Linked DNA regions of Homo sapiens: region 1 is linked to region 2. The links come from fine-mapping of genetic effects on gene expression. A gene starts in region 2. The other region holds a variant in brackets. All regions are shown on one strand. Distances are from middle to middle. Region 1 has its middle 21 kb from the start of APOBEC3A. Region 2 holds the start of CBX6 (chromobox 6).

What was found. PIP is the estimated chance that this variant, and not a neighbour inherited with it, causes the effect.
Region 1: its variant is the best candidate, but not a certain one, in a credible set for the expression of CBX6 in lymphoblastoid cells (TwinsUK, PIP 0.72).

What each region holds. Positions count from the first base shown.
Region 1 is chr22:38,934,337-38,939,572 of GRCh38, reverse strand. No RefSeq gene overlaps it. Among named protein-coding and RNA genes, the nearest start is that of APOBEC3A, 21 kb to the left of the region's middle. RefSeq lists an enhancer at 2,429-3,250. The variant C/T (reference allele first, on the strand shown) is at 2,238.
Region 2 is chr22:38,870,120-38,875,319 of GRCh38, reverse strand. It overlaps CBX6 (chromobox 6), which reads left to right and starts at 3,104. Exons shown (of 5, transcript NM_014292.5): 1 at 3,104-3,198; 2 at 3,375-3,418; 3 at 3,563-3,628; 4 at 3,774-3,840. The coding sequence starts at 3,130. RefSeq lists enhancers at 766-945, 762-1,961, 1,798-2,347, 2,348-2,898 and silencers at 2,893-3,152, 3,183-3,332, 3,433-3,482.

The DNA.
Region 1 (5,236 bases), 64 kb before region 2:
AGACTCCGTCTAAAAAAAAAAGAAACTAGGAATGCTATAAAGCTACCGTAATCAAAAGAGTAGTATATGCACCAGGAGCAGAAATAGAGATGAGGAAAATGCCACACACAAACAGAATCAAGGATATTTGGGAAGCTGGTATATGACCAAGGTGGAGCTGCAATTCAGGGGTGGAAAGATGGGCCTCGATTCAGCTGGTGTTGTCCAGTGGATGAGAAATGAATCCTCCTGGCATTCCCGTGGCACAGTGAGCACAGCTCCTCTCCTGCACAGCTGCTCCCGCAGTCACCCGTTCCCAGCCAATCCCCTCCCAGTCCTCAGCCCATGACCCTACCTCAGCCGTCACTGAGCACCAAAAAGCAGAAAAGATCACACTCACCTTCACTCCACCTCTAAAACCCTGCCTCCTTTGGTGTCTATATTCATTCATGCAACATTGTTTTTACTGAGCAGCTACTATGTGACAGGTGCTATTCTAGGAGCTGGATACAGACTCAAACAAAAACAGACACAATTCCTGACTCCGCGGCCTGCCATAGTCTGTGCCCTGTCAAAGCCCAGCCTTCTGTTCCTGCTCAGGGCTCGGCCTCTCCTTCAGTGGGTTTCCCTCTGTAGCTTTCCACACCATCGCCCCTACTGGAGGCTCCTTCCCATCAGCAAGCCACGTGGACTGCTATCTCCACCCTGTGGAGCCACATTTTCCTCCATTCTTGGCATCCCTTCATAGAAAAAAATTATATATGATTTATAGATATAAAATCTTTCTACATGTTCTGTCCCAGTTTCCTGCCTCCTGTTCACTTTCATCCCCCTGCAATCTGGCTCCTGTCCCCTCCCCAACGCTCCAAGAAAACTGCTCTTGGCCACACCACCAGCGACCTTCAGGTTGCCAGGAGAAAGAGATAGTTTTCAGTTCTCATCTTGCCCCTCCACCGGCAGCAGATGACCCGGCTGAACACACTTTCTTCCTGAGCCGCCTCCTCTCTCATTGTTGGTGACACCCCTGACCCGCGGCTTTCTCTCTTCTGCTCACTCAGTAGCTCCTCCTCTTCTCCAGGATCTGTAAACACCAGTACCAGACTTGGGGGTCCTCCCCACTTGTGTCTCCCACCTTCTCCCAGGAGACATCGGCCCGCCCCATGTGCACACCACTCACCTCTCCGGTCCTGGAGTTCGCCTCAGCCCGAGACTCGGACATCCACTTCCTACTGGGCATCCACTCTCGATATCTGATGGGCATCATAATTCACATTCCTGATTCCTTGTGGGTTCCCCCCCAAAAATGTATTTTTCCTCAGACTTCACCAACTTTACACAGGACACCAGCATTCACCCAGCGAGCAGTGAGCTTGAGCCCCAGCCCAAGGTGTTACCAGGATTCTTCTTTCTCCTGACACCCAGTTCATCACTGAGTCCTGCCAATGCCACCTCCAAACTTATCCCTACTCGCCTGCTAATCTCTGTCCCCACAGCCTGCACCATCACCTCTCACTGGGATGGTGGAGAACCTTCTGACTCTCAATCTTCTCCCTACAATCAGTGTCTACAGAGGTGCTGCAGTGAGACTTTCAATAGGACCAGGACATATCCCCACCTTGACTAGACTTCCCAGCCCCTCAATACATGCCTACACACACATGCACACACCCACACATGCGCCCACCCACGTGCGCACACACATGCACACTCACACACATGCACACACCCACACATGCGCCCACCCACATGCACACACATGCACACACCCACATACACACACTCACACACATGCACACACATGCACACACCCCCATGCACACACCTACGTGAACACAATGCACTCACATGGATACACACATGCATGCACACCAACGTACACATATGTATGCATACACTCACACGTGCACACACCCATGCACACATGTACCCACCCATGCACACACGTGCACCCACATGCACACACACCCACATGCACACGTGCGAACACCCATGCACACATGCACACCCACACACACACCCACACGCACACACCCACACACACACGCACACACCCATGGACACATTCATCACGACCTCACCTCTCAGTGGAACTGTGTCCTCTCTTCAACGGGGATAAAACCACTTCCCAGCATGATGGCTTCTACGGTTGAGTGGGAGACTCAGTCCAGGGCCTGACTTGGGGGAGTTCAATGTTCCTTCCCTTCCCTCCATAGGGCCAGGAAAGAAAGCCAGGTGGCCAATTCCCAGGCCAGCGTCTT[C/T]TCTCTTCCCACACCTTGTGAAGCCCACCTGACCCAGTTCACCCATGCCGTGGGAAGCCCTGGGCTGGGGCCCTGTGTGGTGCAGATAAGTCCAAGCTGGCCCCTGCCCTCTGGAAGCATCAGATGGACACCAGGCCTTCACTCACTCACCGGCCTGCGCCTTTCCACTGGGATTTGGTCCCTGCTGCCCAGACTGACCATACCTGAGCCTGAGCACTCCTTGTCACATGCTAGCCCCCTGCTTCTGGGAATGACAGAGCCTGGGAAGTAAAGGCCTCCTGGAGAGGGCTGGGACACCCTGACTTTGGGTGGTACAAGATGCGACACCCAGGGGAGTCTGGGGTGAGCTATGGGCAGGATCCTTTTCTGATTCTGCGTGTGTGCATGTGTGTGTTCGTACACACGCATGCACATGTGTGCGTGTGTGCCTGTACATGCATGTGTGCACACGTGTATGCATGTGGGTGTGTGCGAGCGTGTTCATGCACACGTACGTGCATGTGAGTGTGACCAAGCCACAGAAGCGGCAGGCCCAGCCATGTGGCAGCAGGGTCCGCTGTCTACAGATATACGCAGCTCCAGAGGCCAAAGAGAGCTTCCTGGGACAGAAAATGCAAACAAAACTGGTAATGGGAGCGGGAAGATGCAGAGGCCAGACTCAGAGACAGAGGCGAAGCGTGATGGACTCAAGGGCAGAGCTGAGACCCAGGTACTCCCGACCCCTGCAGCAGTGAGTCAGCGTCACCTTTTCTCTGCTTCCTGGGACCTCCAGGGTGGTGAACTCGGCTCCTTCCCCTAAAGGCTCCTCCTCTCCTCCTGGCCTCTTTCTAGGTCTTCTCTAGCCCAGCCCTGGCCACCTGCCCTTTCTCTGGGCTCCCTCCCTCCAGGAACTGGCTCTGCCCTTCACCCCAGCCAGGACACCTCTGCTGCAGCCCCCAAATCTGCTTCTCCAGCCTGACTCCGGGAGGCACACTAGCTTTTCAGCTCTGTAAGTTTCAGGAAACCCCTGGAATGTTCTTTTCAGAATGCTGATTCAGGTGGAACTGAAACTATGTCAAAATGGGTTTTAAACTACTTCAGCAAACTTTACAAAAATGTACAGAAAATGTCCCTATTTCAGATCTTATGACTCAAAAAGCAGGTACCTCAGCCAAGGTTATACTATTTCCTATGAGTACACTGTCAACTGTGAGAAGAGTGTTCTACTAACCCTTAAGTCCAGCTTACTGATTGTTCTTATTCTAACTGCCATCTAATTTAACAATGCTTAAAATATTATAACTGTCATTAAAGTGATGCATCCACAGAATCTCTGATAATGTAGAACATGAATAAAGTAGAACAAGTCTGAAGAAATTGTATCCACGACGTCGCTGAAAAAACTAAAAAGAAAGAATACTCAACTTCCATATTTTCAGGAGGATTCCATTCCTAGGGAACTAAAAGATGTCTCAAAATCTCTGATTATATCTTCCCTTTTAGATACGATCGTTGGCCATTTGGTTTCAGCATTTAAAACATGTCTTAAATGTTTTAAGGTGCGATGGCCAGGTGCGATGGGTCAGGCCTGTAATCCTAGCACTTTGGGAGGCCGAGGCGGGCGGATCACCTGAGGTCAGGAGTTCAAAACCAGTCTGGCCAACATGTTGAAATCTCGTCTCTCCTAAAAATACAAAAATTAGCCAGGCGTGGTGGTGCGCCCCTGTAATCCCAGCTACTTGGGAGGCTGAGGCAGGAGAATCGCTTGAACCCGGGAAGTGGAGTTTGCAGTGAGCCGAGAGTGCGCCACTGCACTCCAGCCTGGCAACAGAGCAAGACTCTGTCTCAAACAAACAAAAAACAAACAACAACAGCAACAACAACAAAAACATGGTTTCCTTCATCAGTGAAAATACACCTTTCCTCGGGCCTGGTGATGCCCAGATCTACCTGAATCGAACTATTTCATTCACATCTCCTTCATTTCCCTTGCTCCTACCTGCACTTTCCTTGCCCAACGCCCTTATCTTACAAGGTCACAAGGACAGAAGGCAGGAACAGTGAAGCGCTGGTGCACGCCCTGCTATAAAGGCAGAACCTGCAGTCTTGTTGGCAGGCTGCCCGCAGCCCTGGCATGGCCACACCTGACTTTGCCATGGCACGGTGCCCGGGAGCTGGGGATGATCACACCCCATGGTGCAAATGAGGGCTAGGCTGGGGCCTGGGGTACAGCCAGGGACATGGTGGCCAGGCTCCATCTGTCACATAATCGTGGTCAAACACCAAAGAGACCAAAGCTGAGGAACACTAGAATAGAGCAAAGTGTCAATTTTATAATCCGAATGAGAAACACATGATTGATAGAACAAACACAGGGTTAAAGCATACCGGGGAAATGTTCACAGCTGATGAATCTGGGTAAAGGGTATACGGATCCTCTTTCTATGCAATTTTCTGTCAATTTGAAATAAAATTCAAAGTTTAAACAAAAAATTCAAGTATTCACCATCTCTAGGTGGTAATAGGGATAATTTCCTTTTGCAACTTTTCTCTGCTTTTCAAATTGCCTGTGATGAGGGAGTGTTGTTTTTATCATCAGAAAACATTATTAAGGGCTGGGCATGGTGGCTCATGCCTGTAATCCCAGCACTTTGGGAGGCCAAGGTGGGCGGATCACCTCAGGTCAGGAGTTCAAGCCCAGCCTGGCCAACAAGGCGAAACCCCATCACTACTAAAAATACAAAAAAATTAGCCAGGCGTGGTGGTGGGCGCCTGTAATCCCAGCTACTCCGAAGGCTAAGGCAGGGAGAATCGCTTGAACCCAGGAGGCGGAGGTTGCAGTGAGCTGAGATCACGCCACTGTACTCAAGCCTGGGCGAAAAGAGCGAGACTCTGTCTCAAAAAAAAAAACAGAAAAAAGAAAAAAAGAAAAGGAAAAGAAAAGAAATGCTCTTGGGTGGTGTGGGGCAGGGGATGGGGCTCCCAACAAGGGTGGAGTTTGCATCAAAGCTGCTGGGGGC
Region 2 (5,200 bases):
GCTTCCCACTGCCTGAGACAAAGTCCAAACCTACCCAGCATTCAAGGCCCTTCCCAAGTTCAGTCCAACCCATCTTTCCATTGCCATCCTTTGCCGTACTGCCCCAACCCATGCCATAGCAGACTTCTTTCCCATCCCCAAAACACACTCTCAGGCTCTGATGTGCTTGTTCAAGTTGACACCTCCACCCGGGACACCCTTCCCATTCTTCACTTGTAGGCCAATTCCCATTTGTCTTTCCGGCCCCAAATCAGAGGTCTCCACCTCTGAGAAGCCCTCACAGCCTCACCTCCACGTGGTAGGTTGCTCCCCTATGTCCACTCCCAAGACATCCTGTACAGACTCTTGTGGCAGGCTTATAATGCCTCCCCGAAAGATGTCCGTGTCCTAGCCCCTAGCCCCCAGAACCTGTGGATAGGATACCTTACTTACCATCCATGTTACCCTATGGTAAGAGGGTCTTTGCAAATCTGATTAAGTTGAGGTTGAGACGGAAAGATCATTCTCAATTATTTGGGCAGACCCAATGTAATCACAAGTGTTGTTAAAAGAAAGAGGCAGAAGCCAGGTGCGGTGGCTCACGCCTGTAATCCCAGTACTTTGGGAGGCTGAGGCGGGTGGATTACTTGAGGTCAGGAGTTCGAGACCAGCCTGGCTAACATGGTGAAACCCCCATCTCTACTAAATACAAAAATTAGCCGGGTGTGGTGACGCATGCCTGTAATCCCAGCTACTTGGGAGGCTGAGACTGGGAGAATTGTTTGAAACCGGGAGGCAGAGGTTGCAGTGAGCCGAGATTGTGCCACTGCACTCCCACCTGGGTGACTGAGCAAGACTCCATCTCAAAAACAAAAACAAAAGAAAGAAAGAAGCAGGAAGTGAGCAAAGGGATCGTGGAAACAGAGATTTGAGTGATGAAGCCATGAGCCAAGAAATGCCAGCAACATTTGGAAGCTGGATGAGGCACGGAACAGATACTCTCCTTGACCCTCCAAAAAGGGACCAGCCCTGAGGATACCTTCACTTGGGCCCAGTAACACTGATTTGGGACTTCCCGCCTCCAGAGTCATCAGATAACAAATGTGAGTCATTTTAAGCCACTGAGCTTGTGTTAATTTGTGAGAGCAGCAACACGAAACTCCTACACCTTTATTCTAGCATTAGTCACACTGTGTGACAGGTGCCGTTCTCACTCCACTGACAGCTCCTCAGCCTGGGGCACCTTTGTTTCCTGATGGTTTCACACAAAGCCTGGTGCTTCACAAGGGCTCACAAACACTGCTGAATGAATCAACAAGTGGACTCACCTGCTTCATCCCCCGCCTGTCTCCGTCAGCCTGAACACACACACACTGTCATACCCACTCCTCTCACCTGCTCACCCACCACCACCCACATCTCCCAGGAGGACATTTCTATTTTTACCACAGCAGCTCACCTTGGGCTGGCCAGCAAATAGCTGTTTCCCTGGAACATACTGATTTTAAGTGAGGAGAGGGATTTCTCTCAAGGTAATAATTGGACAAATCTGCTGGGAGAAAAAGACTAACATTTTGCTATGGTGGATTTGAAACCCAAGAATTGGCATTGTAGCACAGAAACGCAAAAATCTTTCCTAATGAGCCATTGATGTTCGCAAGACACAACCCTGACTCTTCACAATCCCCATTCCTCCCCACCCCATCTCAGCCCCAAGGTGGTCACTGGAAGGATGGTGAAATCTGTATTTAATGACACTGAAAGATGTCCACTTTATAGCATTAAGGGAGAAAAGCAGATTCCAGAACAGTGTGAATAGCGTGATCCCATTTTGTTAAAAAATTAAATCTACAGACAATGTGTATGTGTATGTATATACATACATACATAGGTGTACGTGAGTTTATGTACGCATAGAGCAGAGGCTGGAAGATTGGTGAAGATGTTAACAATGGTTTTATGGGGGTTATGGACAGTTGTTTTATCTGTATTTTTAAAATTGTTTTACAAAGAACAAGACTACTAACATAATGGGAAATAAAGTTCAAGTAATTTCAACATTTAAAAAGTGGAGCGTTTTGCGCGGCAGGGCTATTTTTTGTGTGTCCGTTCCTGGACAGCCCCAGCTCGATCCCCCGCCCCTCCTCAAGTGGGAAGCTGGGATCTGGGCTCCCCAGAGCAATGGCGGAAGCTTCGCGCAGCTGCGGGCGGGGAGAGGGACGCGGCCAGGTCGGGGGGCCGGGAGGGGTGCTGGGAATCGGAAAACACAGATATGACCGCGAAGGCGGTTTCTGCCGAATGACCAGATGATGACCCGCTGTGGGCCCAAGGCGGAGTGCGGGGAGCCCGTTCCTGCCCGCGGTCCCTCTCCCTCCCCCACTGCCACACCGGCCCCGCCGAATCCTCCCCGGTCTCCTGGGCGAGGACAGGTGCCGCCCGAGACCCCGGCCGCAGACAGATGCCCACGGTCACTCCGGCCTTCCTCGGCCCCATTCGCCGCACACCCCCTTCCTGCGGTGGCGTTTTTGTTTTAACTCTTCTGAACTGGTTACAAAACCACCCTCCCACGAATACATAAATAATGGGTGGGGGGCGATGTTTTAAAGAAATTCCCGCAAGGCCTGGCAAGGCAACAGCAACTGCATTTCTGCTGCATCATATTTAACTGTTTGCAGGCTGCTGCGGGAGATGCGCGGTGGCGGCGAGACTCGGGCTCCACAGCCCTTCTCCGCCCGGGGCCTGGCGAGACTCGCGTGGGGATTAAGAGGCAAGGAGAGGGTGTCAGCGATCGGGCGCCGGCAAGATGTGAGGGGGGGTGATAAGCGTAAGGCCGCAGCGTGCCCACAAGCCGGGCACCCATCGGGTCGGCCGGCAATTGCTCCCTCCGCCCGCGCGGCCCCTTTAAGAGCCAGCGCGCGCCCCCGCCCCGCGAGCGCCGACTTTCCCTAGCAACCGCCCCGGGGGAGGGGGAGGTCCTGGCAACCGCGCGCCAGCCGCGAGGATCACGTGACGGCCCGCAGCTGGAACGCGAGCGCGCGCCCCGCCGCGCTCCCGCCCGCCGGGGCCTGGGCGCTGCGGCGCGTGCGCGAGCGGTGCCGCACCGGCCGCGGGCGCAGGGAGTATTATGGGCTGTGGGTGCCGCTGAGCAAGATGGAGCTGTCTGCAGTGGGCGAGCGGGTCTTCGCGGCCGAATCCATCATCAAACGGCGGATCCGAAAGGTGAGCCGCCGCCCGGGGCGGGCCGCCGCTGTCCGCAGCCGGGGCCGGGGCCGGGGGCCCTCGGGGCGAAGCGGTCCCGCTAGCCCGGCTCCCTCGCCCAGCCCCGCGCCGCCGCCTCCTCGCGTCCCCGCATCCTCCCCACCCCCACCCCCGTTTTTCTCCCCTCTGTTTTTCAGGGACGCATCGAGTACCTGGTGAAATGGAAGGGGTGGGCGATCAAGTGAGTGTCGCGGGGTCCGGGGGCGTCGCGGGAGGGGAGGCAGCGGGCACCGGGGCCTGGGGTGGGGGTGCGCGCTCTTGCTCTCGCCGCGTGCCTGTCCCTCTCTGGTCTTCATCCTGATTTTGTGCGTTTGTGACTCGGCAGGTACAGCACTTGGGAGCCCGAGGAGAACATCCTGGACTCGCGGCTCATTGCAGCCTTCGAACAAAAGTGAGTTGTTGGGGAAGCTGGCAGGGGCTGCGAGGCCGAGGCTCGGCTGGGGCGCCGCGCGGGGAAGCGGGAGAGCCGGGGAGGGCAGCGCGGAGTGGGGCCCGGGAAGGGGCTCTTTTTAACCTCTGGTGTTTTTCGGCCGCAGGGAGAGGGAGCGTGAGCTGTATGGGCCCAAGAAGAGGGGACCCAAACCCAAAACTTTCCTCCTGAAGGTAACCTGGCCCAGCCCCAGCAGCATCCCCCTCTCGGGCCCCCAGCCCCGGCACAGCACGGGGCCTGGAAGGGAGGGACAGATACGCGGCCGCCCAAGCGGGCCGGCCTTTTCAGAGGGGCCCCAGCTGGGCAGGGGGTGGTTGTGAGCCCCCCCAGAAGCCCCTGATGGCAGGCCTCAGCCAGCATCAGCTTCAACAAGAGGGTTTTGGGACTGGGGATAATCCTCCCTGTTGAAACCAGGGGCTGGGGATGCCTTTAGGGCTCCAGGAAAGGGGGTGGCTGAGGCAGGTGGGGGATGCCCATGGGAAGGGGGCATTTGTTTGAGCTGTTATGACTGTGCTGGGAGTTGGAACCCAGGGGGAGAGTGAGTGGGGTCCCACCTCCTGGCAGGGCACAAGGAGAGGATTTGGGGGACCACCTGCCTCCCTGCCCCCAGCTTCCCCCGTTCAGTCTTTCAGGATTTGTTCTTCATGGCTCCCCTCCTTTCTTGGGGATCCAACTTGAATTTGACCTCAAATCATTTTACTTTGAATTTATCACCCAGGCTGGGCCACTAACTTTAGGGCTCTGAGCCTCAGTTTCCCCCCACTCCCGGCCATTTCTGGGGGATGGGGATGTGGGAGTGAGAGCATAGCATATTAGTCTCTGCTAGGGAGGGAAGAACTTCCAGAGGAAGCCATCTTGGAGGATTTGGGTTTTTATTTTATTTTGACAAGGAAAAACAGAGTCTGGGAAAGGAAGGGCAAGATGGCCCTAGGTGGCAGGCACGGCTGCAGGTGGGACTCAGTGGGCCCCCTGTCTTCCTGTAGTGCTACGGATGCCTCAGGGCCCCCTCCCACCCGACAGCCGGTGACTTTGTGGGAGGACTCTTTTTCGGAGAAGAGAAGCAGAAGTGAAAGAAATGTTGGTTTCCAGAATTTCATATTTTTATAACCCCCACCCTCAAGCGACGCACATCCTAGGGGATCCAGGGAGTAACCTTAACCCTGATGCTTCTCTTGGGGAGGGATGGGCGGAGCAGCTGGAAGGCTGGTGGGCTGTGTGACAGCCTCTCAGTGCAGCTGGGGCACCCTCTAGCGGCGAAGCGAGTATGACCATGAGCATTGATACACAGAACGCCTTTTTTTCTTGATAGTTCTTTTGGTTCCTGAGCTGGCTGTGGGCCTAATACAGGGCTGAGCCCCCACATGGATTATCTCCTTTAATTCTTTCAACAGTTCCAAGAAGTAAGGAGTATTATCCCCATTTCACAGATAAAAAATCAAGGCCCAGGAAGGGAAAGTGACTTACCCGAGGTCCAGCTTCCTGGCTTCATCCTGTCTCCTTTTCTTCATCTTGTGCCTTGAGTAGTCCATGTCA